Regions from separate parts of the Homo sapiens genome. Here region 2 is linked to region 1. The links come from fine-mapping of genetic effects on plasma protein levels. Region 1 holds a variant in brackets. A gene starts in the other region. All regions are shown on their forward strands.

Evidence for each region. PIP is the chance, under the fine-mapping model, that this variant and not a neighbour inherited with it causes the effect. Protein levels are from antibody-based Olink assays in UK Biobank. Linkage for the fine-mapping came from a reference panel and not from the study's own genotypes, which makes the PIPs less certain.
Region 2: CCL2 starts here. The variant in region 1 is fine-mapped to the plasma level of the CCL2 protein (UK Biobank, PIP above 0.99).

Annotation. Positions count from the first base shown.
Region 1 is chr3:46,229,851-46,235,227 of GRCh38, forward strand. It overlaps a transcript of CCR3 not described here. Among named protein-coding and RNA genes, the nearest start is that of CCR3, 9.9 kb to the right of the region's middle. The variant G/A (reference allele first, on the strand shown) is at 2,375.
Region 2 is chr17:34,252,721-34,258,068 of GRCh38, forward strand. It overlaps CCL2 (C-C motif chemokine ligand 2), which reads left to right and starts at 2,565. Exons shown (of 3, transcript NM_002982.4): 1 at 2,565-2,705; 2 at 3,502-3,619; 3 at 4,002-4,483. The coding sequence starts at 2,630. The coding sequence ends at 4,107. RefSeq lists enhancers at 1-343, 1,287-2,261, 2,262-3,236.

The DNA of each region.
Region 1 (5,377 bases):
GAGAAAAAAAAACAGCATAGGAGTCAGAGAAGCAGGACAGAGAGGGAGGAGGCCAAGTAAGAGCGTGGTCCCAGGCAGAGCCCTTAGGGTAGCCCTTATCCCATGAGTGGACGCTGGACTCAGGAGCATTAGGTTATGCCTCAGAGTCTATTCTGACACAAGACAAGGAAGTTGGAGAGATTCCTTCTGGCTCTGTGGGCAAAACCACTCCAGTAGTCAGAGGGCAGGTCTTGATAGAATCATAGGTGCAAGCAGCTGGAAGCAAAAAACATGGAAACAGAAAGGGGTGCATAGGAAAGGTAAGAAGGACTCCACAGGGTCCAGCAGAGCCCCACCAATATCCATGACACTCTCCTTCTATAAGGAGGACTCATTCTTTTCTGTAATGAAGTCACAATATGCAAGTTTTCTTCAGATTTTCTTTATTAAAGAGAAGTGTAGAATTAAAGCAGAGGTGTCCTGACATAAAATTCAACTCCTGAATTTTGGACATGGGCCTCTGGAGTGGAATGGAAAGCCTGGAGTGAACAGAAATACTCCACCACCCACCCCTCAGGCCACCTGGTCCTATGTAACCCCTCATGCCACATCAACGGACCTCCAGGAAGGCAGCAGGCAGAGTGGTTAGGGCTGGGTACTAATCTGATAGAGCTGGATTCCAGGACAAGCCCCACCATTTTTTGCTTGTGTGATCTTGGGCCCGTTGCTTAACAAACTCACCTCAGTGCCTCCTCTGTGAACTGGTAAAAAGAAATGCACTCATCTCCCAGGGTCACTGAAGAGTTTGAACAAGACAGGGTACCTAAAGCCCTTAGCAGAGGGCCCAGCCCCCTCTGACGATGTAAATGCAGCCCCTCCATCTACCTCCTCGCCCCGTCCTCCGGATCACTGTCCTAGTTCATGAGCCTGGGTGCATTAAAGTCATCTTTATCGGTGTTAAGGACCGAGGCACTTTTCCTCCACCCTCCACACTGGCCCTCTGATCTTTTCCAGGGCAGGGACCTAGGCACATGTTTTTATTCATTCAGGATTTGTGCTGCTCAAAACAGATTTTGATCCGTTTTTTGTTTGTTTTGTTTTTTGTTTGTGTTTTTGAAGGTGTCTCGCTCTGTCGTCCAGGCTGGAGTGCAGTGGCGCGATCTTGGCTCACTGCAACCTCTGCCTCCCGGGTTCAAACGATTCTCTTGCCTCAGCCTCCCGAGTAGCTGGGATTACAGGCACACACCATCACACCCAGCTAATTTTTGTATTTTTAGTAGAGAAGGGGTTTCACCATGTTGGCCAGGATAGTCTCGATCTCTTAACCTCATGATCTGCCCTCCTTGGCCTCCCAGAGTGCTGGGATTACAGGCATAAGCCACTGTGCCAGGCCCAGATTTTGACAAGTTTTAAAAGTGCCCAGATTAATCTTGTGGATGAGATGCAAAACAGCACTCCATATGGAAATGGGCTGTGCACCCCTCCCTACATGACTTTCTGAGAATCCTGATCGCCACTGCAGTTTATAGAAGGCTCCAAAACACTTTATTACTCAGGTGTGAACAAAGCAGAGATTACATCTTCCCACAATAAGAAATATTTCTGGTTGTTACTTGTAGGAAAAGGAGCGGTTAGCTTCAATATCTATTATCTATCTATCTGTATTAGTCAACGAGCACAAAGTTTCAGTTACAGAAGATGAATAAGTCCTAGAGATGTACTGAACAGCATGGTGCCTCTAGCTAACAACACTGCATCGTATACTTAAAAATGTGCCAAGAGGGTAGATCTTACGTTAAAGTAATAATCTTGATAAATAGGACAGGAGGAAACTTTTGAAGTGATAGTTGTGTTTATGGTATAGATTATGATGAGGGTTTCACAGGGGTATATTTCTCTCCAAACTCATCAAGTTGTATAGATTAAATATGCACAGCTTTTTGTATATTATACTTCAATAAAGTGGTTTTTAAAAAAGATCCATTATTCATCCACCCCTCTTATCTTGTTTCAGGAGAAACAAGATCTATTGATCTATCCCATCTCTTTCCCTGCCCCAATGTCTCTCTTGCATTTCCAGGGGCCCATGTGACAGTGTGAGGTACCATGGAAATAAGAACTTCACATATTTTACTTGGGTAACATTATATGAATTTGTTCCTGTTTATTGGAAGTGCATTGTTTTTGCATTTAATTAGGAAGTATTTTCCATATCCTGGGGAGAAAAATGTATTTTCTGCATAATTTCTAAATCATTGTTCAATTTTTTTCTTCATCGTCATATTTATTTACTGAGTTTGATACTAGATTTTTGATGTTCTTATAAAAAAATGAAAATGAGCAAAATGAAACACACAGAATGGTTAGAGGAACAAGCAACAACACAATCCCTCAC[G/A]GGAATGCCCTGAAGGAATATGTTGAAGCTAATTTGAACATGAAGGTTACGTCTGTCCAGATCTCTAAAAGCAGCCACCAAGCAGGTTTTACACAGGGAAAGATTTTGTTGGAAAAGCACCTGGGAGGGAAAGTGGGCTGGAGCAGGAAGGGCTGGGAAAGCCGGCAGAACCCCAGTGAGGTAGCAGGGGAACCAAGCGGTAGTAGACGCATCCTAGACTGTTCTGCAGCCTGAGGAAGGTTTGGCATAGCCACGTGGGGGTCCTTAAGCTAATGTCAGTGCATCTCTAGGGATTGGGCCTGCCTCAGTATCCCTGTGTGCTCAGTCATTGGAAGCACAACATTGATTTCAGAGCCTGCAGAGGGGTCTTAGGCTTTCTGGAGTGGGAGGGGCATGTTCATGGCTGCACCGGTGGTTTGCCCCATCCTTGGTGCCATTCTGGATGTGATGTTGCACTGATGGTAAATATCAAGGCCCAGATCAATGCTAGACTCTTGTTCACCTGTTATCTTGAAATCACAGGTGGCCCACCACCTCCCCCAATAGCACAGCTTCCACGTTCTCACTCCTGTCTCTTTTGTAGAATAGGCTATCTATCAGGGGAATAATCCTTTTTTGTGTTTTTCTAGATGAAGTCTTGCTCTGTTGCCCAGGCTGGAGTGCAGTGGCACAATCTCGGCTCACTGCAACCTCTACTTCCTGATTTCAAGCAATTCTCCTGCCTCAGTCTCCCGAGTAGCTGGGATTATAGGCACACGCCACCACGCCTGGCTAATTTTTGTATTTTTCGTAGAGACGGGGTTTCACCATGTTGGCCAGGCTGGTCTCGAACTCCTGACCTCGTGATCCACGTGTCTCAGCCTCCCAAAGTGCTGGGATTACTGGCGTGAGCCACTGCACCCGGCCCATAGTCCTTTTTGTAAAGCTTTCACAGGAGGGTGACGTGCTGTCAGTGGAGGGAACACAGAAATACACAGGATTGCCAACGTGCTAGAGAGGGGCCCTGCTGGCTACAAAAGTCCTTCCACTAACTTCACTAGAAAAGTGACAGTAAACACAAGTCTGGCTGGAGCCCCACATTTCTGGCCCTGGTGCCCGGGAAGGAAGGTGGGTGCATTAAAGGAAGCTTTGCACTTCTCCCTGCTGCTCTGGCAATCGTTTCCGTTCACATGCTCAAGGTTGTGGCTTGACCTATGCTCTCCTGCAAAATATTGCTGACCCTTTCCTATTTCTGAGGTTCTTTGCTTTTCCCCTCCCATGTTCCCATACTCCTAAGCTATCTTCTGCGTGTGTTGTTGTTGTTTTGGCTCTTTTTTCCCGCCCCCCAGAAATGTGTCTGCTTCAGTGTAATGTGGCAGTGAGAATCTGGGAGATTGGAAGACATTTGTGTTTGGTTGGGTTTTCCCACACACCTCTGTTTTTCCTGTGAGCTAAGAACCCCAAAAGAAGCATCAAAAATTTCTTTCCCGTGGTAGGAAAAGCCAGGACAGAACGAGCCATTCTGGACCTTGGGGAAACCACTTTGTGTTCTGGTTTCCTTCAGGTTTGATGCCATCCTCACCTTTGGCTGAAGGGCAACAGGCAACTCTTCTTCAGACGGCAGTACCATGCCGGAAAACAGAGCACCATGTGGCTAGCCCAAGCTCTGGGGTAGAGCCAGCTCTGCCCTTCACTCTCTGTGGCTTTTGCCAAGTCCCTCATTGAGTCTCAGCTTCCCCATCTGCAACACAGGGGTAAGGTAGCAGGGTTGCAAGAGCATCCTGCCACCTCCTGGGCTGCAATGGATACCCCGTCAAGGTAAGACAATGGACAGGGGGCAGTATGCCCTTGTAGTGCCTGTGCATGCATCAGGCCGGCACTGCTCAGAGTGCTCCTGAGGCATCCTGACCTTGAGAGATGTTAACACTTGTCATTTGAAAAGTATTTTTTTTCTAAGTTAAAGATAGGTTTGAGAAATGCTGGATTAGGAAGGTTTCAAACAGATTCATCACTACAGGACTTCTCAGGGGCCTTTAATGCACTGTGAATCTCCAGGAGTGTTTTCTAACAGTGCATGCTTTTATCCTAAGAGACATTAAATGTATTGGGATGGATTCATTGGTTTAATCAATGGGTAGTTCATGAGAAGCTTCAACCTGAAAGGCCTGAGGGCTCTTGATACCCAAGAAAGCCCAGGGGAGATCCTTGACATCTGTGAAACATCAGATCCAAGATCTCCCAGAGTGACCACATACCCTTTCAGAGTCCACTTGGGCTCCAGATGTTATCTGGAGCCATATTTCTACCAAGAATTTATGTGGTTGTGCTTATCCTCACATAAATTAAGCCTCGTTTTAACATTCTATAAAGCTTAGTCTTGCAATTGATGAGCACTCATTGCCCTAACTGGAGCACCCCACAAAATACCCCCTGATTTCCCTTGTTTTTATGTGGAACACACAGTAGAGTCACTCCCATGAAGATCTGAGTCACTGCTGAATTCCATATTCCTGTCGATAATTTATCCCAAATTTATGTTTTCTGCCCCAGAACCACTGCTTTTTAAGATTTCTTTATTATGGCTTTCCTTCCACCACCATCACCAGCATTTAGCTTGTTTTATGAAGAAATGAAGCTCTTTGGTTGTTTAAATCACTTCTGGGGAATTCTAAGGCTACAGTGAGTGGTGAGGATGGAGTTGACCAGGTCCACTCACCAGGTGGAGGGCTCACGCCCATGCATAGCCCCCATTCCCACATCCCACTCCCTTTCTCCTGAAGGGAGCTCAAAGGGTCTACATCTGGCTTCTCTCCACCCCTCTACTGGAGGTGGAGTGGCTTTTAAATTGGTCAGATTTGGAAAGAATAGCTGGGAAGCCTTAGCCCAGCTCTGCTCCTCTTCCTCTTGAAAGAGAGCTGCCTGTCACTCAGTAGATACATCTGTACAGTTCTGTGGTTTAATTAACAGGCTTCTTTTTTCCCTCACTCCCCCACCTACCCCCATATCTTAACTTGCTCAGATCCC
Region 2 (5,348 bases), not on the chromosome of region 1:
GGGGAGGGCATCTTTTCTTGACAGAGCAGAAGTGGGAGGCAGACAGCTATCACTTTCCAGAAGACTTTCTTTTCTGATTCATACCCTTCACCTTCCCTGTGTTTACTGTCTGATATATGCAAAGGCCAAGTCACTTTCCAGAGATGACAACTCCTTCCTGAAGTAGAGACATGCTTCCAACACTCAGAAGCCTATGTGAACACTCAGCCAGCAAAGCTGGGAAGTTTTTCTCTGTGACCATGGGCTAATTGGTCTCCTTCTCTGGATTGTGGCTTTATCAGATAAAAACAAGTGGTCATGCCACAGGATGTCTATAAGCCCATTGATTCTGGGATTCTATGAGTGATGCTGATATGACTAAGCCAGGAGAGACTTATTTAAAGATCTCAGCATCTTTCAGCTTGTTAACCTAGAGAAAACCCGAAGCATGACTGGATTATAAAGGGAAATTGAATGCGGTCCACCAAGTTCATGGTAAAGGATGCACTAACTGATTAGAGAGAGGTTTCCCCTGATATGAGGAAAACTTCTTGGAAGATGAGGTGAGATGGCCTAGGAAGAAATTCCTACACAAAGTTGCACAGTCTCTAGTCCTGGAAACATTTTATTCATTGGATAAGAATGGATTGAGGCATGAGCAGAGGACTGAGACAAACACAGAGAAGTTTCAACACTGGTTGGGGAGAAAAGGAGTAACTAGTGAGATTCAGGCAGAACAAGAATAAGGCTCCTCAAGAGGCACAAGCAAAGCAGGGCTCGAGTTGATTTGTTCTCTCTTCATCCTGCTTTTTGTAATTCCACCAGAGTCTGAAATGGCCACTCCATAGAGTCTCTGCTCTGGGATTCTCCAGGAAACCAATATCCATCATGAGACATCAAGTCTAGTCCCAGGAAGAAGAGATTCTGGAATGGAAACATCCTGGGTGGGAGTCTCAGCACATCTACTATTCTGTCTGAGTTACTGGACAAATAACTTCAGTTTTAACCTAACGAAAGCTGGGTTGGTTGGAGGACTGGGCAGGCAGCGCTGGAAAGTATGTCAGCACCATACCTGACTCCCTGAATGCACTCAACAATGCCATTACTGACCACTTACTAGAAATAAAACAGTCATTTGTTGAATACAACCCGTTTCTTTTTACAAGTGTAGTGAAAAGTGTTTTCTTTCAAGAAACCCCATGCATTTATAGACATTGCCTCAGTGACCCTTTATGAAAGAAGTCACTAGTCTTTGTATGCCCATTGGGCAAGGGCACCGCAAGGCTCAGAAGGAGGAGGCAGTGGGCTAGGAGAATCGAGAGATCAGAATTTTAAACTCAGCCCAGCCATTAACATGCCTCAAGTACTCCTATCATATTTGTAAGAGACAACAGTTCACTGAAATGAATTCTAAGGTCTTTGGGTTTTTATCAGTGTGCTTCTGTAGTTTCTGAGGAAATCTAAGGCACAACTGAGGAATGAAGTCAGGCTTTCCAATTCCCGAAATACTCCTCCACTGCTTACTCATGTCCCTTGGAAATTAAGAAGGAAGCCAGGAGAATAGCTGCCATAACCAGGGATGAACTTCTTGTCCACTGCTGCCTGCTATGCTAGCAACAGCCTCCTAACTCATAATGACTTAGCCATGAGGAATGTTTCTAGATTCTCCTTTAGCTGTCTGCCCATTTGGAAGATGCTGAGGACAGAGAGAGGACCCAAGCAGGCAACTAGTTGGAGGACTTGTACACGTTTCCTTCCAGCAGTATGTCAGAGAGGTGGCAGCCCACTGGGGACAGGGCTGCCTGGGTTCTGTGCTCGAGGGGACCTTGAGCAGGCTATTTAACCCTTCTGTGCCTCAGTTGCCTGATCTATAACATGAAAATTAGCAATCCCTACTAGATAAAGTTGGGGAATTTACAGAGTTAATATTTGTAAAGGTCTGAGAATATTCCTGGCAGAGTAAGCACTCTGTGAGTATGACACTGGCATTTCTTCTGCAGCACTACATGCTGTCTATGCCTTTGTCCAAGTCTGAAACCCTAGAACTCTTAGAATTCAGTTCAATGTTTACACAATCCTACAGTTCTGCTAGGCTTCTATGATGCTACTATTCTGCATTTGAATGAGCAAATGGATTTAATGCATTGTCAGGGAGCCGGCCAAAGCTTGAGAGCTCCTTCCTGGCTGGGAGGCCCCTTGGAATGTGGCCTGAAGGTAAGCTGGCAGCGAGCCTGACATGCTTTCATCTAGTTTCCTCGCTTCCTTCCTTTTCTGCAGTTTTCGCTTCAGAGAAAGCAGAATCCTTAAAAATAACCCTCTTAGTTCACATCTGTGGTCAGTCTGGGCTTAATGGCACCCCATCCTCCCCATTTGCTCATTTGGTCTCAGCAGTGAATGGAAAAAGTGTCTCGTCCTGACCCCCTGCTTCCCTTTCCTACTTCCTGGAAATCCACAGGATGCTGCATTTGCTCAGCAGATTTAACAGCCCACTTATCACTCATGGAAGATCCCTCCTCCTGCTTGACTCCGCCCTCTCTCCCTCTGCCCGCTTTCAATAAGAGGCAGAGACAGCAGCCAGAGGAACCGAGAGGCTGAGACTAACCCAGAAACATCCAATTCTCAAACTGAAGCTCGCACTCTCGCCTCCAGCATGAAAGTCTCTGCCGCCCTTCTGTGCCTGCTGCTCATAGCAGCCACCTTCATTCCCCAAGGGCTCGCTCAGCCAGGTAAGGCCCCCTCTTCTTCTCCTTGAACCACATTGTCTTCTCTCTGAGTTATCATGGACCATCCAAGCAGACGTGGTACCCACAGTCTTGCTTTAACGCTACTTTTCCAAGATAAGGTGACTCAGAAAAGGACAAGGGGTGAGCCCAACCACACAGCTGCTGCTCGGCAGAGCCTGAACTAGAATTCCAGCTGTGAACCCCAAATCCAGCTCCTTCCAGGATTCCAGCTCTGGGAACACACTCAGCGCAGTTACTCCCCCAGCTGCTTCCAGCAGAGTTTGGGGATCAGGGTAATCAAAGAGAGGGTGGGTGTGTAGGCTGTTTCCAGACACGCTGGAGACCCAGAATCTGGTCTGTGCTTCATTCACCTTAGCTTCCAGAGACGGTGACTCTGCAGAGGTAATGAGTATCAGGGAAACTCATGACCAGGCATAGCCTATTCAGAGTCTAAAAGGAGGCTCATAGTGGGGCTCCCCAGCTGATCTTCCCTGGTGCTGATCATCTGGATTATTGGTCCGTCTTAATGACACTTGTAGGCATTATCTAGCTTTAACAGCTCCTCCTTCTCTCTGTCCATTATCAATGTTATATACCCATTTTACAGCATAGGAAACTGAGTCATTGGGTCAAAGATCACATTCTAGCTCTGAGGTATAGGCAGAAGCACTGGGATTTAATGAGCTCTTTGTCTTCTCCTGCCTGCCTTTTGCTTTTTCCTCATGACTCTTTTCTGCTCTTAAGATCAGAATAATCCAGTTCATCCTAAAATGCTTTTTCTTTGTGGTTTATTTTCCAGATGCAATCAATGCCCCAGTCACCTGCTGTTATAACTTCACCAATAGGAAGATCTCAGTGCAGAGGCTCGCGAGCTATAGAAGAATCACCAGCAGCAAGTGTCCCAAAGAAGCTGTGATGTGAGTTCAGCACACCAACCTTCCCTGGCCTGAAGTTCTTCCTTGTGGAGCAAGGGACAAGCCTCATAAACCTAGAGTCAGAGAGTGCACTATTTAACTTAATGTACAAAGGTTCCCAATGGGAAAACTGAGGCACCAAGGGAAAAAGTGAACCCCAACATCACTCTCCACCTGGGTGCCTATTCAGAACACCCCAATTTCTTTAGCTTGAAGTCAGGATGGCTCCACCTGGACACCTATAGGAGCAGTTTGCCCTGGGTTCCCTCCTTCCACCTGCGTTCCTCCTCTAGCTCCCATGGCAGCCCTTTGGTGCAGAATGGGCTGCACTTCTAGACCAAAACTGCAAAGGAACTTCATCTAACTCTGTCCTCCCTCCCCACAGCTTCAAGACCATTGTGGCCAAGGAGATCTGTGCTGACCCCAAGCAGAAGTGGGTTCAGGATTCCATGGACCACCTGGACAAGCAAACCCAAACTCCGAAGACTTGAACACTCACTCCACAACCCAAGAATCTGCAGCTAACTTATTTTCCCCTAGCTTTCCCCAGACACCCTGTTTTATTTTATTATAATGAATTTTGTTTGTTGATGTGAAACATTATGCCTTAAGTAATGTTAATTCTTATTTAAGTTATTGATGTTTTAAGTTTATCTTTCATGGTACTAGTGTTTTTTAGATACAGAGACTTGGGGAAATTGCTTTTCCTCTTGAACCACAGTTCTACCCCTGGGATGTTTTGAGGGTCTTTGCAAGAATCATTAATACAAAGAATTTTTTTTAACATTCCAATGCATTGCTAAAATATTATTGTGGAAATGAATATTTTGTAACTATTACACCAAATAAATATATTTTTGTACAAAACCTGACTTCCAGTGTTTTCTTGAAGGAAATTACAAAGCTGAGAGTATGAGCTTGGTGGTGACAAAGGAACATGATTTCAGAGGGTGGGGCTTACATTTTGAAGGAATGGGAAAGTGGATTGGCCCCGGTCTTCTCCACTGGGTGGTCTCCTCTGAGTCTCCGTAGAAGAATCTTTATGGCAGGCCAGTTAGGCATTAAAGCACCACCCTTCCAGTCTTCAACATAAGCAGCCCAGAGTCCAATGACCCTGGTCACCCATTTAGCAAGAGCCCAACCCCCATTCCTTTTCTCACAGACCCTGACCCCTGCATGCAATTCTTCCCTTAACATATTGCAACTGCCCCCTAACTGGGCTACCCACCCCCCAATCTGTACCTCTCCAATTAATACCCCAACCTGGAGTAATACAGACACTGCCAGTATTAGGAAATAAGGAAAGAGTTAATCACCATAGATAAGATGATTAGATTGAAGTTTCATAGAGATGATGAGACCTGAACTTATTATTTATGAATGAAGAAGGCTTTTCTAGGAAAATTATAGGATCATTAAGAAAGGAGAAGGAAGAGTGGGAGCAAATACCTGGAGGTAGAAATGGTGATGATGTGTACATCAAGCAGGGAGAAAACCAATGAACCAGATGCGAATTCGGGCCCACACCAATGTCAAGGGATGACAATTAGAAAGGAAGGTTGAGTCAAGGGATTTGAATGTTAGGGTGAAAAGTTACTACTCAACTCTGTAGGTTAAAAGGAAACGTTGAGAATCTTCAGTCCAATGAGGAGGGATGTGCCATGTTTAGAGATTCAGAGATAAGTTTCAGGAAATGTAACTTATAGATTTTATACATACACAGAGAAATACG